6 separate regions of the Homo sapiens genome follow, and regions 1, 2, 4, 5 and 6 are each reported to be linked to region 3. The links are microRNA targets in miRTarBase. Many come from high-throughput screens and were not tested one by one. Region 3 holds a microRNA gene; each other region holds the end of a gene's coding sequence. Distances are from middle to middle.

Region 1 (5,075 bases), 5.5 Mb from region 3:
ACTTGAGCAGAGGAGTCAGCACTGCAAGCCTGAGGAAGGCCTTGAGGCCCAAGGAGAGGCCCTGGGCTTGGTGGGTGCGCAGGCTCCTGCTACTGAGGAGCAGGAGACTGCCTCCTCCTCCTCTACTCTAGTGGAAGTCACCCTGCGGGAGGTGCCTGCTGCCGAGTCACCAAGTCCTCCCCACAGTCCTCAGGGAGCCTCCACCCTCCCCACTACCATCAACTATACTCTCTGGAGTCAATCCGATGAGGGCTCCAGCAACGAAGAACAGGAAGGGCCAAGCACCTTTCCTGACCTGGAGACGAGCTTCCAAGTAGCACTCAGTAGGAAGATGGCTGAGTTGGTTCATTTTCTGCTCCTCAAGTATCGAGCCAGGGAGCCATTCACAAAGGCAGAAATGCTGGGGAGTGTCATCAGAAATTTCCAGGACTTCTTTCCTGTGATCTTCAGCAAAGCCTCCGAGTACTTGCAGCTGGTCTTTGGCATCGAGGTGGTGGAAGTGGTCCGCATCGGCCACTTGTACATCCTTGTCACCTGCCTGGGCCTCTCCTACGATGGCCTGCTGGGCGACAATCAGATCGTGCCCAAGACAGGCCTCCTGATAATCGTCCTGGCCATAATCGCAAAAGAGGGCGACTGTGCCCCTGAGGAGAAAATCTGGGAGGAGCTGAGTGTGTTGGAGGCATCTGATGGGAGGGAGGACAGTGTCTTTGCGCATCCCAGGAAGCTGCTCACCCAAGATTTGGTGCAGGAAAACTACCTGGAGTACCGGCAGGTCCCCGGCAGTGATCCTGCATGCTACGAGTTCCTGTGGGGTCCAAGGGCCCTCGTTGAAACCAGCTATGTGAAAGTCCTGCACCATTTGCTAAAGATCAGTGGAGGACCTCACATTTCCTACCCACCCCTGCATGAATGGGCTTTTAGAGAGGGGGAAGAGTGAGTCTGAGCACGAGTTGCAGCCAGGGCCAGTGGGAGGGGGTCTGGGCCAGTGCACCTTCCAAGGCCCCATCCATTAGTTTCCACTGCCTCGTGTGACATGAGGCCCATTCTTCACTCTTTGAAGAGAGCAGTCAGTATTGTTAGTAGTGAGTTTCTGTTCTATTGGATGACTTTGAGATTTATCTTTGTTTCCTGTTGGAATTGTTCAAATGTTCCTTTTAACGGATGGTTGAATGAACTTCAGCATCCAAGTTTATGAATGACAGTAGTCACACATAGTGCTGTTTATATAGTTTAGGAGTAAGAGTGTTGTTTTTTATTCAGATTGGGAAATCCATTCCATTTTGTGAATTGTGACAAATAACAGCAGTGGAAAAAGTATGTGCTTAGAATTGTGAAAGAATTAGCAGTAAAATACATGAGATAAAGACCTCAAGAAGTTAAAAGATACTTAATTCTTGCCTTATACCTCACTCTATTCTGTAAATTTGAAAAAAAAGCATGGATACCTGGATATCCTTGGCTTCTTTGAGAATTTAAGAGAAATTAAATCTGAATAAATAATTCTTCCTGTTCACTGGCTCATTTATTTTCCATTCACTCAGCATCTGCTCTGTGGAAGGCTCTGCGTTAGTAGTGCGGATGCTAAGGTAAGCAAGACTCACGCCTACCCGTAGGGTTGTAGAGCCTAGGACCTGCAGTCATATAATTAAGGTGGCAAGAAGTCCTGTAAGATGTAGAGGAAATATAAGAGAAGGGTGAGGGTGTGGGGTTCCAGGAGGGAGTTGTGGAGTGTAAATGCCCTGAGCTGGGGCATTTTGGACTTTGGGAACCTGCAGTTCCTTCTGAAGGAGCTGACTCTGATGAAGCTGGGTGGGTCCAGGGCCCACAGATTCTCAGTGAATGAGAGAAAAGCCTGGAATGGAAAGCAACTCTGAGTAGTTTATTTCGGATGGGGGATGAACAGAGAGGAATCTCCACCTGGGGCTGGAATAGAAGGTGTCCTGTGCTTTTGTCCCACTGCTATTGAACACAACCCAAGATCTAGGTGATGAAAATCTATCATCTGCAAGGGTTTCCTGAGCGATAAGGCTGAATTTCCCAGGAAGGGTGACCCAGAAGCCACTGGCCAGGTGCTTTTCTGCCAGGCAGGGAGAGCCAGAGCTGACTCCATTAAAAAGGCATTCTAACTAGGTTATCTCAAGTGCAATTTGACCAATTGTAGGCGTGGGCCAGATTTTGGATGGTAACAAAATGGATGAAAATAGTGGTTTGGGTGGGAAAGCAGCTGGGAGAGATGGAAGGAATTGGTCTTTGACACACATTCTAGGAGTTTTGGGTTGCACCTGGCTGGGCAAAACTCCCGCACACACAAAGTTTGAAGTGCATTCTCTAAGAGGAAATACTTAACTGAATTTTACAGGTGAAGCTTCCTTTTTGGCCTAATTATCCCATGTCCTGTTGAGCTGTATATTTTCTGATGACTCCTGGAGAACAACGACAACAACAACAAAGTCCCAGAGTGTTAATGCCTAGGCTTTAAAAATATTAGAAATAACAGCCATCGGCCATTTGTTAAACTTCTAATTTCCACCACGCCCGGAGTTTCTGTTGCTCCACATCTTCACTGGCAATTGGTCTTGGTTTTGTTTTGCTTTTTTATGGGTTTTAGACATTCTAATAGGTGTGTAGTAGTATCTCACTTTAGTACACAATTATCTAATGCCAAAGGACACTCAGTATTTTATTATGCTTATTTGCCCTGTGTGTATCTTCTTTTGTGTAGATTGTGTTCAGATCTTTGACTATTTTCATTTTTTCTATCATTGAGCTTTAAGAATTCGTATATATTGTAGAGACAAGTTCTTTATCACATATGTGTACCACAGATTTTTTCTGCTAGACTGTGGCTTGTTTTCATTCTCTTAACATTGTCCTTTGAAGAGCATAAAATTTTTATTTTAATAAAATCAACTTGGCAAATTTTTCTTTCCTTGATCATGCTTTTGGTGTTGAATTTAAAAACTCATCACCAAACTCAAAGTTATGTGGATTTTCTCTTACGTTTTCTTTTAGAGGTTGTATAGTTCTTGTATTTTTCATCAGGTCTATGATGTATTGAGTTAATTTTCGTGCAATATGTAAGGATATGTCTAGGTTATTATAATTTGTGTATAGGTGTCTAATTGTTCAGGCACCTTTTGTTGGAAAACCTGTACTTTCACCATTATTGCCTTTGTTGTGAATCACCTGACTATGTGTGTGCAGGTCTATTTCTGAGCTCTATTCTGTTTTATTAATCTATGTGTCTATTCTTTGCTAATGCTTATGTCCTCCACCAAATTCATATTTTGAAACCCTCAGCCCCAGGGTGTCAGTATTTGGAGATGAGGCTTCTAAGGTAGTAATTAATGTTAAAAGAGGCCATAAGGGTGGGAGCTTGATCCCACAGAATTAGTGTGATTGTAAGAAGGGAGAAGAAACAGAAGAAAGTACTTTTGTGCCTGCATGACTTCTCTCTCTCTCTCTCTTTCTTTCTCTCTCTCTCTTCCTCTCTCTCTCTCTGCACATACACAGAGGAAAGGCCAAGAACTGACAAATTAATAAAGGGCCATCTACAAGCCAGGAATAAGGCCATCACCAGAAGACAACCCCGCCAGTCCTTGATCTGGGACTTCCACATTTCAAAACTGAAAAAAGATAAATTTCTGTTGTTTCAGCTACTCAGTCAATGGCATTTTGTTATGGCAGCCTAAGCTAAGACATAACCTCAGGTAACACAATTTTTTTTGTTTTGTCCTAGAAAAAAAAAGCAATGTAATTGTGACATATAAAGTCTGTGGCTCATTTTGAGTTACATTTTTGTATGGTGCAAGATATGTGCAACGGCTAGTATTATGTGTCAACTTGTCTAGGCTATACTGCTCAGCTGTGTGGTCAAACAGTAGTCTAGATGTTGCTGTGAAGGTATTTTGTAGATGTGATCAACATTTACAATCAGTTGACTTTAAGTAAAGCAGTTTAACTTCCATAATGTGGATAGGCCTCATCCAATTAGTTGAAGGTGTTAAGAGAAAAGACCAAGGTTTCCTGGAAAAGGAATTCTACCACAAGACTAACATAAAAATGCGCTGTGAGTTTCTAGCCTGCTGGCCTGCCTTCACTGTCCTGGGGGAGGCATGGAGAGACCAGGTGGACTGGAGTAGACTGTTGAGAGACACTGGTCTGGTGAAGATGTCCAGGAAACCACGAGCCTCCAGCCCATTGTCCAACAACCACCCACCAACACCAAAGAGGTGAGGAAGTGGAAAGCATCCTCTCAACCCTAGCCCAGAAGCCCTATCAAAGTGAACGGCCCACCGAAGCTCTAAATCCTACCCTGTCCTCCCCTGGCACAACCCCCACCCCACCCTGCCCCATTTCTCTATGAAGCCCCTGTTCTCACCCCTTCTCCATCCTCTTCCCCAAACCAGTGCCCTTCTTTGATCTCCTGGTTGGTTTTCCAGGTTGCCAAGACAACCTGGAAGGGAACAGGGACCCGTCAAGGAAGTTCCAGGAACAAAAGGCTCTCCCTAAAAGACCACCGCTTCAAAAAAACCTGAGGAATGGAGTGGGCCAACACTATCCAGCCACTCCGACCAGCCAAAAGAACTCAATCAAAATGAGACACAGTAGGACCACAAGGGCAAGGAGACCACCACCTTCTCCAGTCTCTCTTTGGGCAGCCAGTAATTCCCGGGCAAGGCCAGAAACCTCAAGGCTACCTGAAAAGTCTCCAGAGGTCTAACCCCAGAAAAATAGCCAACAGGGTGTAGAGTACATTTTATACCCCAAAGGGTATACCCCATGGTGACGAAAATAAAATGAACATGTTGTAAAATGATGTGTGTGTCTGTGTGTCTCAAATGGTAGGGGTAGGGAGTAAGGGGGAAGAGGTGGGAGTGTGAGAAGGGAGGGAGGTGGGATCTTCTACAATTTCTTTAAATTCAACTTGCTCTTCGTTCTTTGGTTTCCTAGAGTGAAAGTTATGGTTATTGATTTTAGATTTCATTTTCTAATATAAACATTTAAAATATGCTATATATTTCCCTCAAGGACACACTTTAGCAGAATCCCACTTTTTGTATGTACATTTT
Region 2 (5,073 bases), not on the chromosome of region 3:
CTTATGAGAGGTGAACCTAACAATTGATATTGCTGGGTAATCAGGGGAGGAGTCCTGGTTTGGCATTGTTGTAGCTCTGGCCCCTTCCTTGGTTCTCAATATGTTGAGTGTCATGGCATGATTCTGCTAGCTTGGAGAAGTGAATGGATGGGCCAGTCATTTTCTCAGCTGCAGGTCGCCTGTAACTTAGTGTGGAGAACACCAGAAACAAAGAATCTGTTTTGTCTGGTGTGGTTCAGTGTTTTCAGAGGGTGAGTTCCAGCTTGTTTATTTTGAAGCTAATCTTCAAGATAAGGACCACAAAATGCTGATAACCCTGCGTGGCACTTGTCAGGACTTTTAGATCCGCTGAGGAAAGGAAAATCTGTACGACTTAGGAAACAGGCCCTTTCAAGGCTTCTCGGTTTTTTCCATTGTGCTGTTTCATTTTTCTGTCTCTGCTGACTGCCCCATGTATCAGCTCCTCTCCAAAAAAAACGGAATTCAAGGATTTGGAGATTGAAGTGCTGAGTTGAGCAATACAGATGTACAAAAAACTTTTTTAAAAAGTCCAATCTCACTAGCTTTGCATTTACCTCTGTGGTGTGTTTGCCCCGGACAGCTTGTTCTAAATCCATAGTAACCATCTTTTAAAGAATTTTTTTTTCTCAAACATTTTGCTTGGTTAGGCCTCTGACTCTTCCCTTGTTGTTATGGTTAGGAGACTGAGGATTTATGCTTGCAATACAGTAGATTCTTTCCCTTCTTCTATTTTCTTATTTGGTTAGCTAGTTAATTAAACTTCAACATAATTACATAATTCACTGTGCTCATTCTGTGAAATAATTTAGCACCTTGTTTTCCAGAGCTGTCAGAAAGCAGAAGCAAAGAAAAAGTAATAAGATGAAAATGGAGACCACGAAAGGACAATCCATGAATCATACATCTGCTACAAGGAGAAAGAAAAGGAGGGAAAGAGCCCATCAATATCTTGGCTCTTAAATGTCCAGTGACTGGAGAATAAGAAAGATTTATGGTCCAACCTTTGATGCCATTTTCTGAAAGTGCCACACTGGACTTAAATTCAGCTGCTTCCAGAGGTGTGCACCTTTCTGAGCTAGATAACAGGCAGGTGGCATTTGCTGGTTTACAGTCCCTTATCTGCCTCTCTGGAGACATGGGGAGTTGTTCCATCTTCAGCCAGTTTACTAGTTCTTTCAGCATTCATTTTTCCTCACTTTAAGTCTCTCCCAGTCACATTGTTCTATTTTTATGTTTTCATTTTTTTTGAGATGGAGTCTTGCTCTGTCTCCCAGGCTAGAGTGCAATGGCACAACCTCAGCTCACTGCAACCTCTGCCTCCCGGGTTCAAGCAATTCTCCTGCCTTAGCCTCCTGAGTAGCTGGAATTATAGGCACATGCCACCACGACTGGCTAATTTTTGTATTTTTAGTAGAGACGGGGTTTCACCATGTTGGCCAGGCTGGTCTCGAACTCCTGGCCTCAAGTGATTTGCCTGCCTTGGCCTCCCAAAGTGCTGGGATTACAGGCATGAGCCACCTCACCCAGCTCCGGTCACATTATTCTAGCCTTTTTATCCAAAAAATGGGCAGACCATTCTTTTGCAGAAGATGTCAGAAGAAAATGAAAGTGAAAACCTATGCAGTTTGTTTACCGTGAACATAAAAGTATGTTAATTTAAATAGGAAAATATTTTATGTTAAATATGAAACAATAGTTTAAACCCCACTTGAAAAGTATAGCGTACAATTATTTTTAGACTGAATTTGAAGATGATGGAAAGGGTTTTTACAAAGGCACTGTTTAGATATACAGATTATAATTATAATTACATTATTATTAAATATTTATTCTTCAAGTACTTTTTGCAGTTGTCCTCTGACGGTCTAGAATCACTTAAATGCTTGTTGAATGAGTGAGATGTTTAGAACTACGACTTGCTCTGTCATTCCAGTGTCGTTTAACCTATGCAGTAAGATTCTGTCTTTGTAAAAGTAGTTCGTAGCAGAAGCCAGGATAGTTTGGTAATTAAACGCCCAAACTAAACTCCTCATTCCTACCCTTAATATTTCCTGGCTGTATGATCTTGGCCAGGTCACTCTCTAAAAGCCCCGGTTTCTTCATTATTATCATTATTATAATGGGGAGAATAACAGCTATACCTGAGGTTTGTTTTGTGATTAAATTAAATGAGACCCAAGTGCTTGGCTCTCAGTTCTCCTCTGTCATTGGTGTGTTAGGTTAACAATGAAGATTGTTACTGGGTCTAATGGTAATTACCTTTTGGCCTGATAACAAAGCATTGAAGGCAGTAATTTGAACTCCCAGAACAAACAGTTCATCTCCCCGTTTCTGTGCTAGTTATTGTCTCCTTAAGACTGAATTGTTTTGAATGACTTATATTTGCATAATGACTTTTCTCTTGTTTCCAAACAACTGCTGTAGAGCAGATTTGAAGGCATCTTTGTTTGGGGTTAGGCAGAGCCCTGTAAGTAAGGGTGGAGGAACTGCACTCTATCTGGTATTTAAATTCCAGGTAAGTTAGGACTGATGCCTGGTGTAGAATGCTCAAGTGTGGCCCAGATCAGTGTGGCAGTGGTGTACATCAGTTGATGTCAAAAGATGAGTTATACCCCTGGACTTCATAAGCATCAGAAAGCTCTTCTCCCTTTTGTTACATGGAGGGCTATGATAGGAGGGGCACATTTGGAGGTGACTGGGTGAGATATGAAGTTTGTAAAACCGTTGTGAGAGTTCCCCTCTCTGATTCAAGCAAGGATAGGGACATTGCCTGACTTTATGGTGTTCACCATTCCATGATAAAATCTATTGAAATCTCCTCTGAAACTAAGACACCTGAGGGACTATGACTACTGAAAAATTGAGTTCTGAAGGCCAACAGTTATTCTCATCACTATATTGCCTTAATGTTAAGATACCATCAATTATAAAATACATCATTGATTTTATCATAGCTTTTCAGGGGGAGAAGAGAAATAATACTTCATTAATTAATTTTTAGATCATCTGATTTCAGAAATACTGAAATGCAAAAAAAAAAAAAATCTTAGAATTGAGGAAATAGTTATAATCAGGAATAATGTACTTATTTATTTTGAGACAGAGTCTTGCTTTGTTGGACAGGCTGGAATGCAGTGGTGGGATCTCTGCTCACCGCAACCTCTGCCTCCTGGGTTCAAGTGATTCTTGTGCCTCAGCCTCCCTGGTAGCTGGGATTATGGGTGTGTGCCACCACACCCGGCTAATTTTTATATTTTTGTAGAGACTGGGTTTCGCCATGTTGGCCAGGCGAGTCTCAAACTCCTCATCTCAGGTGATCTGCCCGCCTCAGCTTCCCAAAGTGCTGGGATTACAGACGTGAGCCACCACACCCAGCCAGGAATAATGTACTTTAAAACTTTATTACTGTCTTAGAAAGTTAAAAATAGGAAATTTGGTGATTTTACACTTATATTCAATTAATACTAATTTTAAGGACTTAATCTCTATTCCTTTTTCAGAGAATAAACTAATTGGTAGCCTGTAAAAATGTGTCTCTGGGAGGTAGAATGTGAAGCGGGATGAGGTCATTTGTTCTTAATAGAAATCTGAACATCTTAACATTAAGATACCTTCTCAAAATAGCAATAGAAGAAAATCCCTAAAATTTGACAGATAACATTTTCTAAGCTTTTTAAAAGGACATTTTTAATAAATACAGCTAAATTTCATTCTTCTTATATTATGAAATTTAATGAGAAACAAAGTCTTTTTGTAGGCTGGATTTCATGTTTTTTCCTAATTAGTCCAGTACCTAGACTAGTTTATCACTCCATATGCCCCATTCTTTTCATCCGATACTGTTCTTTCTGCTTGGAATATGTCCCTCCATGTGGCCACTCCGTTCTCTTTTGGGAATCTTCCACGAGTCCCTGATACTGAAACCTTCTTTGGCCCCTTGGTGTTTGATACCACATTTAAGGCCTTTCACATATTATTCTGTGATTATTTTTACTGATTTTATTTCCCTCAAAGATTTAGGTCTCTTAATGTCAGCACCCATTTCATCTGCTCTTGTGTATCTTGTGCCTTTTTGGTGCTCAATAAAAATTTGATGTAAGCATGGAATTTTCTAGAGGCTTTGAAGTGGTAGGCATGCCTGAAATACGGACTGGACCCACTCTATTATGTTTCTTCTAGGGACTGAAAAGGGAAACAGATTTGTATTAGGAGGCACTTAGAGTCAATATGAGGACCACCCTAACTGAAGTTTTAAATGTGGGGATGTGCTGCGTGAAGATTAGTAGCCTTGTAGCAGGATGAGCCGTGGACAAAACCCCACAGACACCAAGATAGTGAAGGAAGTAGCTTTTAATCAGTTGGAAGCATCGACAGTCTAGTGTCTTAAAATCCGAGTTTGTTGAGTGCACAATTTCTGTCCCTTTTAAGGGCTCACAACACTAAAGATTTTACATGACAGGGCCGTGATCGATTGAGCAATCTAGGGGGTATGTGACAGGGGCTGCATGCACCGGTAATCAGAGTGAAACAACAGAACGAGAAGTTTCACAATGTCCTTCCATACAATGTCTGGAATCTACGGATAACATCGGTTGCTAGGTCATGGGTTGAATTTTAACTATCAGGCTAAGGTCAGGCAGGCCCAGGCCTGGTTTTGGGTCTGGTGCCTGGCACCCGGCTGCCTGCCTTTGGTTTTGCTTCCTTGTTTCTTAAAACAGGTACTGAGCATAAAACAATATAGAACAATACGGGGGGGGATCTCTTTCTCTCTTCTCTCAGCTTTATCTGCAAGACCCCTTCAAAGTAATCTGCAAAATACTAGGCATCTGGGAGAAGTTTGACTAATCTTGAAATATAAAATCACAACCTACAAAGGGTCCTGGTCAGCTGCCACTGCCTTCACAATGTCCCTGTTGGTCTCTCCACTGGAGTAGTACATCTGTTGCCAGAGAAATAAAAATGTCAGTTTGTGTGTTGTTTTTATACTTCTTTTATGGTACTTAAATCATGCCTTGTATAAGAATGACTTTATATACTTGTTTAGCCCTGTAC
Region 3 (5,075 bases):
TGCTGAGCTAATTTTTGTATTCTTAGTAGAGACGAGATTTCACCATGTTGGCCAGGCTGGTCTCAAACTCCTGACCTCAACTGAACCTCCCACCTCAGCCTCCCAAAGCGCTGGAATTACAGGCATGAACCACGGTGCCTGGCCAAAATTTTTTATTAAAATGGAATCATACTGTATATACTGTTTATTTTGGCCTAGCTTATTTCTCCTGGCATAATTATTTTGAAATTCGTCCACATTGTTATTTGCATCAATAATTTATTTGTTTTTATGGATGAGTAGTATTCCACTGTATGGATATTCCAGTTTTTTTTAAATGCATTCACCTGTTAATGGCCATTTGTCTCCAGTTTATAGCTATTTTGGCTTTGACTACTAGAAAAGACGTAGCTATGAACCTTGATATAAAAATATCTGTATGGAGAGGCAGAAGGAGAGAAGGAGAAAGAGAGGGGAGGGGAAGAGGAGAAAGGGGAGAAGGGAGAGGGTGGAAGAGGGAGAGAGAAGGAGAAGGGGAGGGAGGGGGAGGAGAAAGTAGAGGGGGAGGGAGAACCAATTCCTGGAGCCCACAGGAAGCACGACCTGGGAAGCAAGGTGTAAATGTTACATGTCCATATCAGAGGATGGGATAGAATTTGATAGTCTGCTGCTACATTATCTCCCAGGAAAGCTCTTTCAAATCATGTCTTTCTTGGTGTCTAGTTGGCAACTGATGATGTGTGTGGATTTTGTTTTTGCAGTGGCCAAATACCTCACTTCACCCAAAGTCATGAGGAAATACAGGCTGTAGTGAAGAGGTGGGAAACTGTTCTACTTTGTTTTCTATCATTGTTTATTATGATACCTCATCTGTTTACTTCTCAGTGTCCACTGCTCTCCTTCCTACACTCGCAGCATTTCTCAGTGCAGTGTCGTCTATCCCTGATACGTGCTAGATTTCCTTTGAACTTCGTTCTCTGTTTTGTTTGGGATTATTGGAAAGTAAAGTTACATTTTAGTGTATTTGTTTTTATGTTTTGGGGGTTTTTGTATTGTGTATGTTCTTTTTGATTTTTGTTATTGTATTGCTTGTTTGCTTTTTTAGGGTTTTTGTTTCCTGTAGAATTTTGTATATTTGGATGTGTTTTGTATATTTTGTGTGTTTTTTTTTATTCCGATTTTGAATGGTGTTTTTAAATGTGTGTTAATTAGAATTTTCAGTAGTATTTTTACATTCTTAAAAATTGTTACTCCCGGCTGGGCACGGTGGCTCATGCCTGTAATCCCAGCACTTTGGGAGGCCGAGGCCAGTGGATCTCCTGAGGCCAGGAGTTCAAGACCAGCCTGGTCAACACGGTGAAACCCTGCTTCTACAGAAAATACAGAAAATTAGCTGGGTCTGGTGGCACATGCCTGTAATCCCAGCTACGTGGGAGGCTGAGGCAGGAGAATCGCTTGAACCCAGGAGGCGGAGGTTGCAGTGAGCTGAGATTGTGCCATTGCCCTCCAGCCTGGGCAACAAAAGCAAAACTCTGTCTCAAAAAAAAAATTGTTACTCCTTTATTGTTTTTTTAGTTGACACATAATAATTTGTAAATATTGATGAGATATAGTGAGATGTTTTGATACATACATGCATTGTGTAATAATCAAATCAGGGATTTAGTATTTTCATTACCTCAAACGTCCATCACTTCTTTGTGGGAAGAACATTCAAAACCCTCTCTTCTAGTGATTTTGGAATATACCATAAAATATTGTTAACTAACTATAATCAATCACTCTTCTGCACAATAACACATCAGAACTTTTAGCCCTCCTAACTGTGACTCTGTACCCATAAACCAATTTTTCCCCAACCCCCCTTTCCCTTCCCTTCCCCAGACTCTGGTAACCATCATTCTACTCTCTACTCCTATGAGATCAACTTTCTTAGACTCTGCGTATGAGTCAGATCATGCAGTGTTTGTCTTTGTGTTTGCATTGCCCTATTTTGTGAGCATTCGTTTTGGGGTTGTTTGTTTCATTGTTCACATGTTTATTTGCATGTGTGGCATGCATGTGTTCACATGTGTTGCAGATATTTCTTGGTCTAAACACTGGTTTGCAAGTGCATGACTGTGGTGACTACTGCTTCTGCTGCTGTAGGCCTTCATCTCTGAACAGAGGATGCCAAACCAAGGCCCCAATGATATAAAGAAGATTCAAATTGGAAAGAAGAGAACTCTCCAGCACTGCTTCAACTGAGCTCTATCTGGCCTGCAATCGCTAGATATGATGAGTCACTTGAGTGGTCCTTTCTATGTAATGACTGGCTTTTGAGGCATATGAAGTAGTTGTTCATGTGCCAACTATATTAAATTGAAAATTAGCAGAACAATTTAGTGAAGTATGCTAAGTCTGGGAGGAAGAGGGAAAATTTTCTCTCTCCTAAAATCTGTCTCATTAAATGTGCAGCAGGTGAAGTAATTAATAAGCATTCAGTGAAAGACATAGGAGACAAAAGGGAGAGGAAAAAGGGTTTGTTTTTTTTTTAATCTATTGACTATATTCTGCTTATTCCTAGTGGACTGAGAGTGTTGGGATTCTGACTGAAATGGCGGAGTGAGGGACATTTTCCGCTGTGCTGTGTGTAGTGCTTCACTTCAAGAAGTGCCATGCATGTGTCTAGAAATATGTTTTGCACCTTTTGGAGTGAAATAATGCACAACAGATACAAGTCAGAACTACCCACTCAGTGATGGGTCAACTCATACAACCCTTTAAAGAGAATTCTGTGGGGTAAAACCTAGAGGATGAGGTTCTCTGGGAATAGCCTCATCTGTAGTTTCCCCGTGTTACTATTAAGATGGTCAGTGCCACCACCATCAGCCATACTATGTGTAGTGCCTTATTCAGGAAGGTGTTACTTAATAGATTAATATTTGTAAGGCACCCTTCTGAGTAGAGTAATGTGCAACATGGACAACATTTGTGGTGGCATTGGTAATGACGAGTGGAATTTCAGTGACAATACTGCCCTCCCTTGAGCCTTGGTACCCAACCTTTAGTGATGAGCCATTTCCAGGTACTCTCTGAAGTACCTCTTGAGAGATCTGCTCCAGAATCTGAGGGTGCCTGGGAAAAGTCTCTCATGTAGGTTTTTCAATTATTTATTGCTTTTTCTCCACAAAATGACTGACTACACTGGAAACAAGATTTGAGGTAGGAACATGATACTTCTTTTTCTCTTGTACCTCTTAGTCTTTTCTCTCTATAACAACCCAAATACACTTCTTGCCTTATAAACCCCTGAGAAGTTTACACTGATCTTCTTTCCTCACAATATTTAAGCCTTCTTTTTAGGGAGCACAAATATCCTCCTGCCCTTCCCTGCTGAACTCCAAACTCCATGAACCATCTTTCTTATGAAGTGATCTCCTCAAGGCTTAGATACACTCAAATTCCCTTTAATATTCCTGTGTATCCGTGATGATAATCTCATATCAGTGGAGTTTGATATGATACCCCAAATTTGCTTTCATTTGAACTATTTATATGTTTTTAGCTGGTCTTAACTATTATGGGAACGGATGAAGTGATGAGAACATATATGTATGAACATGTGTGTACATATACTTCTGGAAACTTTACATATACAAAGGGGTTTATATATCCCTTTATATATATATATATATATATATATATATATATATATACACACACACACACACACACACACACATACATATGACATTCACAGAAAAAGGAAAAGGATGCAGAAAAAGGATCATGTTCCTACCTCAAATCTTGTTCCCAGTGTTTTGTAGTCCTTTTGTGGAGAAAAAGGAATAAATGCTTAAAAAACCTACAGGACATACTTTTCACAGGTACCCCAGGCACCCTCAGATTCTGGATCAGGTCTTATAAGACCTTCAAAGAAACACCCAGGACAATGATTGAGCAAATATATATGTATATAATTATTATAGAAGTCTATTTTTAAAATAAATCCCTTAAGATATTTATTATAAGGATACTGCAAGGAATAACCTCAGGCAACTATGGAGGCTGGTGAGTTCCTAGATCTGCAGGGGGATGGGTCAGCAAGCTGGGGACCCAGGAGAACTGATGGTATAGTTGCAGTCCAAGTCCAGAGGCCAAAGAAGCAGTAGAACAAACCATTTTGTAGTTCCAGTCCAAAGGCCAGCAGGTTTGAGACCCAGGAAGAGCTAATGTTTTAATTTGAGTACAATGCCAGAAAAAAATGAGATGCCCCAGTTTGGAGGCAGTCAGGCAGGAGGAATTCTCTCTAACTTAGGGGAGAGTCAGCCTTTTTGTTCCATTTAAACCTTCATCTGATTGGTGCAGGCCCATCCATCCACATTAGGGAGGGTGGTCTGCTTTACTCATTCTACTGATTTAAATGCTAATGTCATCCAAAAAGACCTTCACAGAAACACCCAGAATAATGACTGACCAAATGTCTGGGCACTCCATGACCCAGTCAGGTTGAAATATAGAATTAATCATCACAAGTTCACTCCTTGTCATGTTGTCACTTATACGCATCTCCTTAAATTATATTTAATCATCAAATGAGAAAAATACCAAGGTCATAATTTCATTTAATAAGATACAACTACCATTTATACAACCCAGAATTCATGAACCACTTCACCAGAAGAGGAGATAAAGTCCTGGAGTGTTGTTTGTTTACTCTTCTCCTTGGTGTTCCATAACATCAATACTATGATTATTTAAAGTTAACAACGGTTAATAACTATGATATAATATCAGTACACCTTACGTTACATGATAAGGGGATAAGAGAGACAAGAAAACACAGAAGTATATTAATAAAAATATAAGTAGAAAATACTCATGGGAACTACAATTCTCATTTCTGTAACTGTCATCTGGTGTTAGCTGGTATTTACAACTACTTTTCTTCACTACCCATTTTGTATTCCCTTTGCCTTCAGCAAGCACCTCAGCCATTATATTTTACCTGGTAGAGTGACCCAAACTTTCATTTCTGAAGGGTCTGGGCCATTAGTAGTCCTGCCAGGATTGGGTTGTTGTAGTTTTCTACTGACCTTAATCACAAGGCATAG
Region 4 (5,075 bases), not on the chromosome of region 3:
CAATTTACCTTCACCTGGGAAACTGATCACTTCACATGCCATTAATAAAACCCAAGATCTTTTAAATCAAAACCATTCAGCAAATGCTGTAAGACCTAATTCTAAAATCAAGGTGAAATTTGAACAGAATGGTTCAAGTAAAAATTCTCATCTGGTCTCCCCTGCTGTTAGTAACAGTCACCAAAATGTTCTAAGCAACTACTTTCCTAGAGTATCATTTGCCAACCAAAAGGCTTTCAGAGGTGTGAATGGATCTCCAAGGATAAGTGTAACAGTTGGCAACATCCCTAAAAACTCAGTCTCTTCTAGTTCTCAGAGAAGGGTTTCATCTTCTAAGATATCCCTAAGAAATTCTTCAAAAGTAACGGAATCAGCATCTGTGATGCCATCCCAGGATGTGAGTGGGTCTGAAGATACATTCCCAAATAAACGACCTAGGCTAGAAGATAAGACTGTTTTTGACAATTTTTTTATCAAGAAAGAGCAAATAAAAAGCAGTGGTAATGATCCAAAGTATAGTACAACCACAGCTCAGAATTCCAGCAGTTCATCCAGTCAGAGCAAAATGGTTAATTGCCCAGTTTGTCAGAATGAAGTTCTGGAGTCTCAGATTAATGAGCACTTGGACTGGTGCCTTGAAGGTGACAGCATCAAAGTCAAAAGCGAAGAAAGTCTTTGAAAAAGGTTTCAAAGTCTCAAGTACCACCTGTATTATCTCACTAATGTGCTATGTCAGCCAGTCAGGAAGTTCTGGTTAATACTAAGATTTGTAGGTTATAATCTAGTTCACATAACCAATAGAAAGTGTCCTATTTTATATATACGCATATAAGATTGTAATTTTAAGATGTTTTGTGTCTCAGGGTGCTACATTCACTCTTGCCTTAGGTATACTGTAACCCAGGTTCTGCCTGTCGTGTATAAGTTTTAGATACTTTTGTTCTTTCTTGCTCTTAAGGATTTTAAAAACCTGTTAATCTTTTTATTTGTATACTTTCCTAAAAATATTCATATGGGGAATCCTGTCAGGTGTTTGGTTATATTGACTATTTATTAATAGTATTAGAACTCATTCCCTGAACTGATGTAAATCTTCATAGTGTCAGACATACTGACCAAAACCACAATCTAGACTACAAAGTATATTGTTTTAGAGTACTCAAATTGTATTATTTATTAATTTTTTTGTTTGCAAAATCTTAACAGGAACTGTATTTTCTATATTTTAAAGAATTTTATTTGTCCCACTTTTACTAAACAGTGGCAGCAGATTTTAAGTTAAAGAATATGGAATATAGTAAAATAAGTAAATTTCTTTTGGAATATTTTTAGTAACAAATAGCCACTATAATTCTGTAGGCCAAATTTTATATTGAGTTTAGCTGTTTTCTCAAAATTTAGCAGAGTGGTTAAAATTCTGTGCTGATAAGTAACTGATACATATAACATAAACATAACAAAGTTGCCTAGTTGATGTAACAGTGGAAAGTTATCTGGAAATAGTATTTTGAACTTTAAGCCAAGTTTAAAACATTATAATAAAAGGAATACCATTTGTGCATTTTAAGTAATCTTTTTTAAAAAAAATATTTTCCATGTTATAGGGAAAGGACAAAGAGACTTTTATCAGTTTGCTTTTTGTCTTGTGGCTGTACATGCTGTTGGCATAGCCCTAACACAGTTGTTCACAAGTTTTCTTTTTTCTTGTTGCAATTTTCCTTCACTTTGTTGTAATACAGGTGCACAAATCTTAAGTGCACAGCTGGGTAAACTTTTACAGTGTTCACCTGTGTAACTACCACCCGGATCAAGTTAGAGAACACTTCCATTGCCACAGAAGGCTTCCTATAGGTGTCTGTTCCCAGTTGATACCCATGACCCTCACCACCTCCAGAGGTCCCCACTGTTTTCACCCCATCGTCGCAGATTATTTTTTAATTTTATAATGTAGTATCTTTGTTCCTATGTATAGCAGGAGTTCATTTTCATTGCTCTTGCATTTGTATGAATATACTAGAATTTATTCATCCATTCTAATGTTAATGGACATTTGAATTATTTCCAGTTTGGGGCTGTTAAGCATAATGCTGCTAAGAACATTCTTATCTTTTCTGTTGGGTATATATACAGGAATGGAATTGCTGAGTCACGGGGTATATTTCTGTTTAGCTTTAGTAAATTCTGCCAGTTTACACTCCTACCAGCAATGTATGAGAGTTTTAGTTGTTCACCATTCATAACACTGTTAGCAGCCCTTTTCGTTTTAGACTGGTTGGCTGTTCACAAATTTTGATATTCCTTAAAGCATTAAAACATTTTAATAAATACTTATAAATAGGTATTAAAATGTATATTATGTTCAATATATAGTTATATTTTCATAGAGGATCATTTCTCTAAATGAATGTAACAAATTATGTGTAATTAAATGCTTCCTGAGCCAAAACCACACAAGGTTCTGGGGCTGTGAAGTAGCTGAGATGGTCCATGTCCTCAAGGAGCTTTACAGCATAGTTGGGGAGTAAGACAAATGCACATTAATCTCCTTAGAGTTTGCTAAGTGCTATGACAAGGGTTTTTGCTGGGTGCTGTGGGTAAACTGTAGGAAGAAAAATTAGCTCTGCCCAGGACTTCGGGGGATGTTTCTTGGAGGAGACAACATCCAAAGTTGAATCATGTAGAGTGAGTCGAGTTAGCCTGGTTAAAGAAGGGTGGGGAAGAACCTTTCAAAGGGAAGAAGGAACACAAAGTCATGTTCCGAGGGAACTGAATGCTATTCCAAGTGAATAGAGTAAAATGTGAGGGGCAAAATGGCCAAAGGAGAGATGGCAGATAGGACAGATCTAGCTAAGTAGTACAAGTTTGAGGCCAGGGATCTCATGTTCCTCACTTTATGTCTGGTTTGTGTGATACCTGCTAATAAGCATCTCTTAATTAAGGTGGGGCTTGGAAAGGCTTATAAGCCAGTCGAGGACATGTTGAGAAGTGTTTCCAATGGATTTTTCTGGGGACAGCATAGATAAGAGGGGGAAGGGTAGTGGCAGGGAGGGAGAGGAAGAGACAATTTTTTGAGAAACAGGTAGTAAAGTCAGGAGTTGGTTTCAGGTTCTAGGGAATGATGGAAATAGTTGAGAAAATGGAACTCAATTTGAAATAAGCCTTACTACATCTGTTAAACACTTGAGAAAATTTGCACCCTAAAAATTCTGATATTCCCCCAAATATGTCATTCATAATAGAGACATAGTTTTGTTTCTGTTTAGATTTTCCCTTTTAAAGCCAACTTCCCAACTTAGAAGCAGAGCTGGTAATTCTGGCTCAATCCTTAAATGCTATCCCCCTGCTGTGGGGACATGGGGTCTAGATTCTGTTTTTATAAAACGGTGGGTTTTGGGTTTTTGTTTTGTTTTTTGAGATGGAATCTTGCTCTGTGGCCCAGGCTGGAGTGCAGTGGCACAATCTCGGCTCACTGCAACCTCCGCCTCCGGGGTTCAAGCAATTCTCCTGCCTCAGCCTCCCAAGTAGCTGGGATTAAAGGCGAGCGCCACCACACCTGGCTAATTTTTGTATTTTTAGTAGAGATGGGGGTTTCACCTTGTTGGCCAGACTGGTCTCAAACTCCTAACCTCAAGTGATCTGTCTGCCCTCGGTCTCCCAAAGTGCTGGGATTACAGGCGTGAGCCACCATGCCCTGCGAAAACAGTGTTTATTTTAAGGTCAGTGTTATATGTTACCTAGCCTTAATTTTTACTTTAGAAAATTGTGCTGGGCAGCCGGGCGTGGTGGCTTACGCCTGTAATCCCAGCACTTTGGGAGGCCGAGGTGGGCGGATCACGAGGTCAAGAGATCGAGACCATCCTGGCCAACGTGGTGAAACCCCGTCTCTACTAAAAATACAAAAAATTAGCCGGGCGTGGTGGCAAGTGCCTGTAATTCCAGCTACTCGGGAGGCTGAGACAGAAGAATCGCTTGAAGCTGGGTAGCGGAGGTTGCAGTGAGCCGAGATTGTGCCATTGCACTCCAGCCTGGGCAAAAAGAGCGAAACTGTGCCAAAAAAAAAAAAAAATTGCACTGGGCATGGTGGCTCACGCCTGTAATCCCAGTACTTTGGGAGGCTGAGGTGGGTGGATTACGTGAGATCGGAAGTTTGAGACCAGCCTGGCCAACATGGTGAAACCCCGTCTTTACTAAAAATACAAAAATTAGCCAGGTGTGGTGGCATGCACCTGTAATCCCAGTTACTCAGGAGGCTGAGGCAGGAGAATCGTTTGAACCCAGGAGGCAGAGGTTGCAGTGAGCTGAGACTGCACCACTGCACTCCAACCTGAGTGACAGAGTGAGACTCTGTCTCAAACAACAACAACAACAACAACAAAAAGCTGGGCATGGAGGCTCACGCCTGTAATCCCAGCACTTTGGGAGGCCGAGGCGGGCAGATCACGAGATCAAGAGATCGAGACCATCCTGGCCCACATGGTGAAACCCCATCTCTACTAAAAATAAAAAAATTAGCTACTCAGGAGGCTGAGGCAGGAGAATTGCTTGAACCCAGGAGGCGGAGGTTGCAGTGAGCCGAGATTATGCCATTGCACTCCAGCCTGGCGACAGAGCTAGACTCCGTCTCAAAAAAAAAAAAAAAAAAGAAAATTTTGTTTTGCTTTTTGTAGACTATGGATATGCATATGCATATCCTAACTGGGAATTCTAAAGTGGAAAGGAAAATACTATGACAAAACTTCATACTGTCCCATTGTCTGATAGCTCTGAGATCATACTTTTAAAGCTTACAGGACTTTAAAATACGAACGTCAAAGTGAAACAACTGATGTACCTGCAAAACTAGCACCTAGCTGGACCCTTTCTGGGTGCGTGCAGTGTCAGCTCTTTTTATGTTGTGTTTTAAGTTTTTTATCCTGGTATTGCATTAATCGTGATCCAATGGTTTCCTTTTATTCTTCGTCTCAATTTTTTTTTTGTCCTTAAGGCTACTGTGGACTTTTTAGCAATTTGTTGTAGTTGTTGACTATCGGCATATTCACCAACAGAAGTGAAACTCTTCATATGACAATTATAAA
Region 5 (5,075 bases), not on the chromosome of region 3:
ATGCGGAAAGAGGAGAATGTATAGTGTGGCTTTTTGTTTGTTTTTTAAAGTCACATATTTAATCCTAGTTCAGGGTCACTGTGTTTTCATCAACTTAAAGAATCATTGTGACTCCCATCCTTGCCCAACCCATGAAAAATGGAATTCAGGAGATAGGCCCGAAAAATATTTTCTATATCTACATGAATCTCAAATCATCTTACTTGAGCATCATGGGTCACCATGAATGGGTATAGCATAGGCATAGAAACATATATATTTGGCCTGTCTTGTAGATTTTTGCCTACTCCTCCTTTATTTTTCTTTTTAAATTTCAGGTGGCCAGGAGATGGGGAAAGAGGAAAAACAAACCTAAGATGAATTATGAGAAACTGAGCCGTGGCCTACGCTACTATTACGACAAAAACATCATCCACAAGACAGCGGGGAAACGCTACGTGTACCGCTTTGTGTGTGACCTGCAGAGCCTGCTGGGGTACACCCCTGAGGAGCTGCACGCCATGCTGGACGTCAAGCCAGATGCCGACGAGTGATGGCACTGAAGGGGCTGGGGAAACCCTGCTGAGACCTTCCAAGGACAGCCGTGTTGGTTGGACTCTGAATTTTGAATTGTTATTCTATTTTTTATTTTCCAGAACTCATTTTTTACCTTCAGGGGTGGGAGCTAAGTCAGTTGCAGCTGTAATCAATTGTGCGCAGTTGGGAAAGGAAAGCCAGGACTTGTGGGGTGGGTGGGACCAGAAATTCTTGAGCAAATTTTCAGGAGAGGGAGAAGGGCCTTCTCAGAAGCTTGAAGGCTCTGGCTTAACAGAGAAAGAGACTAATGTGTCCAATCATTTTTAAAAATCATCCATGAAAAAGTGTCTTGAGTTGTGGACCCATTAGCAAGTGACATTGTCACATCAGAACTCATGAAACTGATGTAAGGCAATTAATTTGCTTCTGTTTTTAGGTCTGGGAGGGCAAAAAAGAGGTGGGTGGGATGAAACATGTTTTGGGGGGGGATGCACTGAAAATCTGAGAACTATTTACCTATCACTCTAGTTTTGAAGCAAAGATGGACTTCAGTGGGGAGGGGCCAAAACCGTTGTTGTGTTAAAATTTATTTTATTAAATTTTGTGCCAGTATTTTTTTTCTTAAAAATCGTCTTAAGCTCTAAGGTGGTCTCAGTATTGCAATATCATGTAAGTTTGTTTTTATTTGCCGGCTGAGGATTCTGTCACAATGAAAGAAAACTGTTTATATAGACCCCATTGGAAAAGCAAAACGCTCTCACTGAGATCAGGGATCCCAAATTCATGGGACTTATATAAGAAGGACAATTAATGCTGATTTGGGTACAGGGGAATTATGTGTGTGAATGTCATCTACAATTAAAAAAAATTAGCACATCCCTTTACTTACTTGTTATCAGTGGATTCTCGGGGTTTGGACTTAATGTTGAGCTAAGAAGCATTAAGTCTTTGAACTGAATGTATTTTGCATCCCTGGTTTTGGACGACAGTAAACGTAGGAGCACTGTTGAAGTCCTGGAAGGGAGATCGAAGGAGGAAGATTGACTTGGTTCTTTCTTAGTCCTATATCTGTAGCATAGATGACTTGGAATAAAAGCTGTATGCATGGGCATTACCCCTCAGGTCCTAAGAAATAAGTCCTGAATGCATGTCGTTCCAAACTAACACTCTGTAATTTTTCTTTTATGTCTTATTTTCCAAGAGTCCTCCATTTTTTGCACCCCCTCACCGCCAACTCTGTTATTCAGTAGAGAGAAGTGTACGGCTTTCTGATTGGTGAGTGAAAAAGTAACTTGAGACACGACCTAAGTTGAAGAGTTTAGACTTGCTGAGTTTTAGAAGTGATGGAAATTAAGAGAGCATTTCAATAAAATGTGACTTGGCTGTCTTTGGAAGAGAAGTGCAAGGCTTTCCTTTGAAGAATTTAAATTAGTCCGGTAGGATGTCAGGTGAGACTGTGTATGCAAAATGAATGGCACAGGTGATGCCAGGGCCTCTTGCTTGGGTCTGATGTCTTGGCACAGGGTAAGTGAAGGTTAATTCCAGAAGAGAGGAATGACTTGAAGGCAAAGGAAACTAAGGAAGGAGGTTCAGTGAGGAAAATAAGGTTGTCCATGAGATTTGAATAGATTTTTAGTTCCCCCAAGGTTTAAATACAAACATAGTCAAGCAAGGTAGTCATCTTTCTGCTGGTTGTGAGGGGGAATCTGAAAATGGAGTTTTAGAGGAAAAGTCAACATCTAACTAGTGAGGAAAAGTGCCTAATACAATTAGAATCTCCCTCACTCTATAGTTGCCCAGTTGAAAGGATAAGGAGGAGGGGTGGCTTTTATGGACTTCCATGAGAGAAGGAAAGAAATATTTCAGGTAAGCTTCTCAGGGCTGGCCCTTTTTGGGATTTGGATGAGAAATTGGAAGTACTAACTACTTTCTAGCATATCTTTAAGAAAATTGATTGTTATTTACTCCCAGATCCTCTTGCAGACCCAGAATTATCAGGAACATAGCTCTGTGATTCATGAGTGTCCCCATACTGATGAATTGGAGCATCCATATGGAAAGCAAAGGCAGAATTATCCCAGCTGTATTATTTTGATCTTTTGGATGCAGGTGCCTTAATGAAGCTCTCAAAATATTTTAGGAGCTGCTCAGGGAGTGTTGGGTGGAACTGTTTGGACTACATTGTTTTCTCTTAGATTATGTGATTTTTGTTGGGCACTGGCAAAAGGTGTGTGTGTGAATGTGTGCATGTGTGTGAATGTTGTGTGTGTGTGTGTGTGTGTGTGTGTGTGTGTGTGTGTGTGTGTTTGCAGACATGCAAAACTGCAGCTGAAATAATACCTTAGATTTCTAGGTAAGTCTTTCCACATTTCAATAATGGGTAAGAGTAGAACCAGGGCCGGGTATCAATTATTGCTTGCTGTTTGCAACCAGGCATAAAATCACTTTCTCAAATCATCCACCGTTCCTATTAAATTTATGCCGGAAACTCTCCTTCTGTGAGTATAACTCCTGCAGTTCCTATAGCAGATAAGATATAAGAAAGTGCCTCCTAGTGCTCCTCCGCCCGCTTGTTTGCTAAAATTCCCTTTCTCTCTAAGTCCACCATTTTCAAGATTTGTAGATAGTGTATTAGTTAAGACAGCTTTGTCGATCTGGCCAGATGTTTTTTCTCCTTTGTCCAAAGGCCAGAGACCATCCCAGGAAGAGTGGTGGGTGGTTTATACACTGGAAATGTTGCGTTTATGCTTTTTAAAAACACACGTTAACTTCAGAGGAAGGATGGGCAAATCTGGTCTAGCTGGGTGAAACCCTTATTTTCCCAGAGATGCCTTAACCTTTGTTGGTTTTGGCTTTAGGGTTCAGAGTCACTTTTGTTCCCTTCTCCATTCTGGAGAGGGACTTCCCCTACATAGAGCCCTGATTTTTGTGGCTGTGGGGATTGGAGGTAGCATTCAAAGATCAGATGTGCTTTTCCTCACTTTGGAGATGAACACTCTGGGTTTTACAGCATTAACCTGCCTAACCTTCATGGTGAGAAATACACCATCTCTCTTCTAGTCATGCTGTGCATGCCGCTTACTCTGTTGGGGTCTATATAAATTTGTTGAACTCTTACCTACATTCCAAAGAAGTTTCAAGGAACCATAAATATATGTATACATATACATATATAAAATATATATATTAAAATAAAATTATCAGGAATACTGCCTCAGTTATTGAACTTTTTTTTTTAAGAATACTTTTTTTTTAAGCTGAGAAGTATAGGGATGAAAAAGATGTTATATTGTGTTTGACTATTTTCCAACTTGTATTTTCATATAATTTATATTTTTTAAAAGCTGAAAATTTAGAAGCAAGATGAAAAAAAGGAAAAGCAGGTGCTTTTTAAAAATCAGAACTGAGGTAGCTTAGAGATGTAGCGATGTAAGTGTCGATGTTTTTTTAAAAAAAAATGCAAAAAAATTCTTATGGCGGAGTTTTTTGTTTGTTTATTTTAGTAGCTGATGCTGGCACATCATTTTGCTGGAGAGTTTTTTATATACTGTAGCCTGATTTCATATTGTATTTTAAACTGTGTGAAATTAAAAACAAAGAATTTCATTCATAATGCTGTGGCTTTGGCTTGATTCTTTCTTGTCTGGATCATGTATTAAAGCAGGACAAATCAACCAACCAGAGGCAAGCACAGAGGGATGCAGTTTAGTCTTTCTGATCTCACTAGCTCAGGACCATTGGAGATAAAGATTTCCTAATAAGGTGAGAAATATAACAGGAATATAGGGAAGTCATCGAACATCCCAATCTTTGAATATATTGTGTCATCCTTTGTGGAATGTCCCTGGCCTTGTCAGACCTCACTTCTTCATGTCCGAAGGACTAAGAGCCATGTGAAGGAAACGTTTAATGACTCAACAGATAAACATTTGATTTCAGCTACGTACCGTTCCTGATATGAATACAGAAAGTTGAACATCTTTAGTGGATCCTGTGGGAAATGAACAGTATTCTTGTGTCCACCACTGATACTAATTTTGCTCTATGGCAATTTGGGCCCTTCACATCCATCTCCTTGGCCCCAACTCTTTCACTGGGGCTGAAGATTGGGAATAATAATATCTGTCAGAACCCCTAGCAACACATGCCATAAATAAAATCATGTTTATAAGTGCTTTGGAGGGGAGTGCTTAGGAACACCTCATGCATGGTGCTTTTTCCTTGTTGCTGAAACTGTAGAAGGTGGATGTTTTTAATTAACACCAACATTTGCAACATGAATCCCAGCTCACAGCTGGAAAGAGAATTTTTGCTGAATTGTTCACAAAGAGAGCTCTGTTTTTGGAAAATCTGTTTCTTCAGGCCTGGAGCTTGAGGTTTGCTGAGTACATGTTAAGCACGGACTGTGTGGTCTGGTGGTCAGGGAGCAGGACTGGCCGCGAAGAAGGCTTCAGCCCCTCAATCCTGGTCAAGCCACCACCACTCACTGGGAGACTTTGGGAAAAATGGCTTCAGGTCCTTATATTTTGTTTTTAGTTTTCAGCTGCAAACCTGGGAAA
Region 6 (5,075 bases), not on the chromosome of region 3:
CCCCCAGGAGAAGCCGCCTGAGCCACAACCTTGCGGCATGCAAATGAGATGGCCGCTCCAGGCCTGGAATGTTCCGTGGCTGGGCCCCACGGGAAGCCTGATGTTCAGGGTTGGGGTGGGACGGGCAGCGGTGGGGCACACCCATTCCACATGCAAAGGGCAGAAGCAAACCCAGTAAAATGTTAACTGACTTCCAGCCTCACCCGTGGGCGGTCAGCTGCAGGGTCCACCGGCATTCGTGTCGCGGCTCGGTCCGCAGCCCCTTTCCACCTTCCCATGCCCCCCACCGTGAACCCCTCTGGGTCTACCCCTGCGCCCCTGCAACCCACACTCCTGCAGCCTCCCACCTGGAATGCCGTTCCTCCACCTCCCTCCAGCCGCCTAACCACACCGCAGGCGAGTCCGCTGGGAAACGGAGGCCAGGAAGCCCTGAGCTCCCTGTGCAGGGCGTGGGGGCTGCTGGACACCAGGGCGGGCTTGCACCGGCCGCGCCGAGGAGTCCCAAGAGGGTCTGGCCACACATCAAGCCTCGTGGTCATCCTCTGAAAACCAGAGAATAGCGCGGGGTGCACAGCAAGTCCCAGGTGATGTTATTGTCACAGTTTGTTATTGTGTTATTATTTTTTTATTTTTAGATTTTATTTTCTTTATTATTATTTTATTTTTTTATCTTTACTTATTTTTATTTTGGATGGAGTCTCGCTCTGTCCCCCAGGCTGGAGTGCAGTGGTGCGATCTCGGCTCACTGCAAGTTCCGCCTCCCGGGTTCACACCATTCTCCCGCTTCAGCCTCCCAAGTAGCTGGGACTACAGGCGCCCGCCACCACACCCGGCTAATTCTTTGTATTTTTAGTAGAAACGGGGTTTCACCGTGTCAGCCAGGATGGTCTCGATCTCCTGATCTCGTGATCCACCCACCTCGGCCTCCCAGAGTGCTGGGATTACAGGCGTGAGCCACCGCGCCCGGCCTATTATTTTTTTAAGATGACGTCTCACTCTGTCACCAGGCTGGAGTGCAGTGGCGCAATCTCGGCTCATTGCAACCTCTGCCCCTGGGTTCAAGCCATTCTCCTGCCTCAGCCTCCCAACTAGCTGGGACTACAGGCATGTACCACCACACCCGGCTAATTTTTTGTATTTTTAGTAGAGATGGGGTTTCACCATGTTGGCCAGGATGGTCTCGATCTCTTGACCTCGTGATCCGCTAGCCTTGGCCTCCTAAAGTGCTGGGATTACAGGCGCGGGTGAGCCACCGCGCTGGGCCTTTTTGTTGTTGTTGTTGTTATTATTATTATTATTATTATTATTTTGAGACAGAGTCTCACTCCGTCACCCAGGCTGGAGTCCAGTGGTGCGATCTCGGCTCACTGCAACCTCTGCCTCCCAGGTTCAAGCGATTCTCCTGCCTCACCCTCCCAAGTAGCTGGGACTACAGGTGCATGACACCACACCTGGCTAATTTTTTTTTTTTTTTTTTTGAGATGGGGTCTTGCTCTGTCCCCCAGGCTGGAGTTTAGTGGCACGATCTCGGCTCACCGAGATTGGAGTTTCACCATGTTGGCCAGGTCGGTCTCGAACTCCTGACCTCATGATTCACCTGCCTCGGCCTCCCAAAGTGCTGGGATTACAGGCATGAACCACCACGCCCGGCCAATTATGCTATTATTATTATTTTAGAAACAGTCTCACTCTGTCACCCAGGCTGGAGTGCAGTGGTGCCAACACAGCTCACTGCAGCCTTGACATCCTGGGCTCAAGCCATCTTCCCACCTCCGCCTCCTGAGTAGCTGGGACCACAGGAGCATGCCACCATGCCTGGGTCTTTTTTTTTTTTTTTTTTTTTTTTGTAGAGATGAGGGTCTCACTATGTTGCCCAGGCTGGTCTGGAACTCCTGGCCTCAAGTGACCCGCCCGCCTTGGCCTCCCAAAGCGCCGAGATTATAGGGGTGAGCTACCCCACCCGGGCCCTAATCCTGTTATTTTTATTACTGCTATCGTTACACCCAAGTCATTCAAGACCGGGCCTCCATTTCTGGGTCCCAAGCCAGCTGGTGTCTTAGGGCTGCCCTAAGCCATCTTGTCTATCCTGTGTGCCCTCCCAAAAGACCTCCTTTCTCTCCCTCCCCTCCCGCTCTGCCTCAGCCCCTCCCGGGCTTGTCCACTGCCTGGAGAGGCACTGAGGCCCAGAGGCGGCCAGAGGCTGCCCAAGGACTAATGCTGGGTCTCTCTTCCCGTGCCTCCAGAGCACCCATGCGGCACCCCAGGCCCCAGGCTGCCCATCCCACAGCCGTGGGGGCGGCCTGAAGCCTTGAGAGAGGAGACAAACTGAGGCCTGGACACCCCAAAATGGCTTGAGTCTTTATTTCCTTGGTGAGGCAGGGCCCCAGGGTGGGGTGGGCTGCCTGGCTGAGGCTCCTGTAGACCCACCAACCTAGGGGCACTTTTCTGGGCACCACAGGTAAGGCACTGCCTGGGGGCTGGAGGAGGCTGGAGGAGGATGCCCAAGCTCCCCACATTCCTCACCCCAGACCGGGGAAGCTGGATATCCTCCGTGTTGTCCTCTCCCCATAGCTGGTCTGAGGCTGTGGTTTACACGCAGGCACAGGTAGGCGATTCTGAGCATCAACGCAGATGGAGGGGAGGGTGAGCCGTCGTGGGAGAACTGGCCCAAGACCAGCACCTGGCTGGTGTCGCCAGCCCCGGCTGCATTGGTGGGTGAGGCAGGTCTGGCTGGAGTCTGGGTCTGCAGGCCTGGCCGGGGCAGGTTGTGGGGGACCAAGGAGCCCTGGGTGTGAACCCCACTGTGGAGGCAGCAGGCACCTAGTGGTGCCACTGGGACACCCGGCTCCAGGACTCCGGATGTCACACATGCGTGAGTCTTGGCGTCTACACCCCCCTCGGGGCCAGTGGGTGAGCAGTGGCCCGTGGTCCCCGCCAGAGCTCCCCCAGAGTGGACTTGGCTCCGCCGGACACAGTGCCCTGCTCTGAGCTGCCGCTGGCTGCTCCACGTCTGAGACCACGCGACGTTGCCTCATGAACTGACGTGGACAGCAGCAGGGGAGACGCTGGGTGGTTCTGTGGCCAAGCACAGCCCGTGTCAGGAGCACAGGCCGTGCCCTTTCCCAGGGGGCACACTGGGCATTTCTCAATGGCCTTCACAGGACGCAAAGGGGCACACAGAGGCAGTGGGGAAGCTGGAGTTCTTGGGCTGGCAGGGAATGGTGGCAGCCTTCTTGGCCTTCATGAAGGGCCTGGCTTGCTGGGCTAAGGTCACAGTGTTCTGAGGTCCCCACACGCACTCAGACTAGACCCTCCGTACACACCCAGGCTAGACCCTCCATACTCACCCAGGCTAGACCCTCCATACACACCCAGGCTAGACCCTCCATACTCACCCAGGCTAGACCCTCCATACACACCCAGGCTAGACCCTCCATACTCACCCAGGCTAGACCCTCCATACTCACCCAGGCTAGATCCTCCATACACACCCAGGCTAGACCCTCCGTACTCACCCAGGCTAGACCCTCCGTACTCACCCAGGCTAGACCCTCCGTACTCACCCAGGCTAGACCCTCCGTACACACCCAGGCTAGACCCTCCGTACACACCCAGACTAGAGGCTTGGGGCTGAGAAAAGCAGTCATGCCTCTTCAGGAATTACCAGCAGAGAATGCCCAGCCCTCTTGATAGTAGCAATAATTAATAGGTTTATCCCCAAAGGAGCGGAAGTGTGGAATCCTCCCCGGCAATAGGTCTTAGGGTAGGGGCTGGGGCATCCTAGAGAAGGGCCCTAAATCAGGCGCTCAGTGTCCGGAACGCAGGTCTATCCCACCCACCAGCCGGCCCCCAGGCCTCCCTTCCTCAGTCCTTCCAGGATATCGTCAGGGAGGTTCTGGGATCCCCAAGTGGTCCGAATCCGGGCTCTAAGGAGTGTCCGTGGCATATAAATTAGACTCTGCTGTGGCAATAAATAACAGGGGATGATGGGGGGCCTCGGGCACCAGGCCCAGGCCTGTCCTGCAGGCTCACACGAAGTTCTCTTCCTCTTCTGCAGACTCACCACCTGGCGGCTCCTCAGGGGTGCCTGCAAGGGTCGATAAGAGCATTGAGGGCGCAGGGCAGGGGGTTCTCCGGCCCCCAGGACAGGCCTGTGCCCCCGCCCTGCGTCTGCACCTGCGCAGCTGCCCGCGTGGCGCACGCCGATGGAGCGGCCCAGGAAGCAGGTGGCCTGGCGCATGTGGCACGAGGAGATGTAGGTGACGTTGTTGTTGCCGCAAAGCTCCTGGCCGGGGCTGGAGGGCACAGGGCAGGGCGCCGCTCGACACACCACGCAGTGGGCGCTGCCCGTCTGGTCCACGACGCACGACTGTGGCCGCGGGCACACCACGTGCTCACAGGACTCTGCAGGCCGGGTGCCAGGGGAAGTTCAGGGGACATCTCGCTGAGAACCCCGCAGGGCTCTTGGCCCCAAGACCCACCCTTAACCCCCAAGATGCGAAAACCCTCTGGTAGGAGACACAAGCACCCCCCCGCCCCCCGTGAGCCCCCCTCTCCATTCCACCCCTCAGGCTCCACCCACAAGCCCTGCCCTTCCCATTGTACCCAGGAGCCACACCTCTTTCGTGAGCTCCTGCCCCTTATGCTACCCAAAGCCCCGCCCCTCCGCGACTGCGGGGCCGCCCACCCAAACTCCACCCACAAATCCCCGCCCATCTCCACCCAGGAACCACGCCCCAGCCAAGAGCCCCGCCCCTTACATGACCCAGTCTCACCCCCCTGGTTCCATCATGCCCCTCTGGTTACACCCACAAGCCCCTCTCTGAGTCACGCTCCCGCTCTGACCATGCCACATACCTCTTGCCCAGTGTGAGCCCCCAGAGGCCCACTATTTTCCAAATCCCAACCCTACAAAAGACCCTACCCCGTGATACTCCCTCGGAAGTATAAAGACGCCCTTACTCAGGCCCCACCGCCACCCATGTGACCTGTCCTGGGCTGGAGGCCCCGCCCCTACGCACTGCGGCAGCGGCCCCGCCCCTCCAGCAGGCCCCGCCCCTCCAGCAGGCCCCGCC

The links. Region 3 holds the annotated microRNA hsa-miR-506-3p (UAAGGCACCCUUCUGAGUAGA, at 2,907-2,927, shown strand). A microRNA usually pairs through its seed, bases 2 to 8, with sites in the 3' UTR of a target mRNA and lowers its output. Matches are read on the target gene's strand: a 7mer-m8 pairs with bases 2 to 8, a 7mer-A1 pairs with bases 2 to 7 and ends in A, and an 8mer does both.
Region 1: miRTarBase lists MAGEA12 as a target of hsa-miR-506-3p. Seed matches in the 3' UTR shown: 7mer-A1 at 1,399-1,405.
Region 2: the mRNA of ZCCHC4 is a reported target of hsa-miR-506-3p. Seed matches in the 3' UTR shown: 7mer-A1 at 1,362-1,368.
Region 4: miRTarBase lists SPRTN as a target of hsa-miR-506-3p. Seed matches in the 3' UTR shown: 7mer-A1 at 881-887.
Region 5: the mRNA of ETS1 is a reported target of hsa-miR-506-3p. Seed matches in the 3' UTR shown: 8mer at 2,626-2,633 and 7mer-A1 at 3,345-3,351.
Region 6: miRTarBase lists FSTL3 as a target of hsa-miR-506-3p. Seed matches in the 3' UTR shown: 8mer at 2,460-2,467.

What each region holds. Positions count from the first base shown.
Region 1 is chrX:152,736,167-152,741,241 of GRCh38, forward strand. MAGEA12 (MAGE family member A12) reads left to right here. Exons shown (of 3, transcript NM_001166387.4): 3 at 1-1,503. The coding sequence ends at 940. It also overlaps the pseudogene CSAG4. Among named protein-coding and RNA genes, the nearest start is that of MAGEA12, 4.9 kb to the left of the region's middle.
Region 2 is chr4:25,368,184-25,373,256 of GRCh38, forward strand. ZCCHC4 (zinc finger CCHC-type containing 4) reads left to right here. Exons shown (of 13, transcript NM_024936.3): 13 at 846-2,200. The coding sequence ends at 981. Among named protein-coding and RNA genes, the nearest start is that of ANAPC4, 6.5 kb to the right of the region's middle.
Region 3 is chrX:147,228,605-147,233,679 of GRCh38, reverse strand. MIR506 (microRNA 506) reads left to right here and starts at 2,837; the gene lies at 2,837-2,960. It overlaps MIR507 (microRNA 507), which reads left to right and starts at 2,603; the gene lies at 2,603-2,696. All of the region lies in intron 2 of LOC105373347 (periphilin-1), which reads right to left.
Region 4 is chr1:231,352,683-231,357,757 of GRCh38, forward strand. It overlaps SPRTN (SprT-like N-terminal domain), which reads left to right. Exons shown (of 5, transcript NM_032018.7): 5 at 1-2,341. The coding sequence ends at 679. It overlaps LOC107985360 (a long non-coding RNA gene), which reads left to right and starts at 4,608. Exons shown (of 2, transcript XR_001738520.3): 1 at 4,608-5,075.
Region 5 is chr11:128,457,819-128,462,893 of GRCh38, reverse strand. It overlaps ETS1 (ETS proto-oncogene 1, transcription factor), which reads left to right. Exons shown (of 10, transcript NM_001143820.2): 10 at 318-4,129. The coding sequence ends at 533. Among named protein-coding and RNA genes, the nearest start is that of MIR6090, 62 kb to the left of the region's middle.
Region 6 is chr19:680,662-685,736 of GRCh38, reverse strand. It overlaps FSTL3 (follistatin like 3), which reads right to left. Exons shown (of 5, transcript NM_005860.3): 4 at 4,177-4,404; 5 at 2,352-4,087. The coding sequence ends at 4,029. PRSS57 (serine protease 57) reads left to right here. Exons shown (of 5, transcript NM_001308209.2): 5 at 1-191. The coding sequence ends at 21. Among named protein-coding and RNA genes, the nearest start is that of FSTL3, 6.8 kb to the right of the region's middle. RefSeq lists enhancers at 3,706-4,254, 4,255-4,804 and silencers at 4,625-4,724, 4,915-5,075.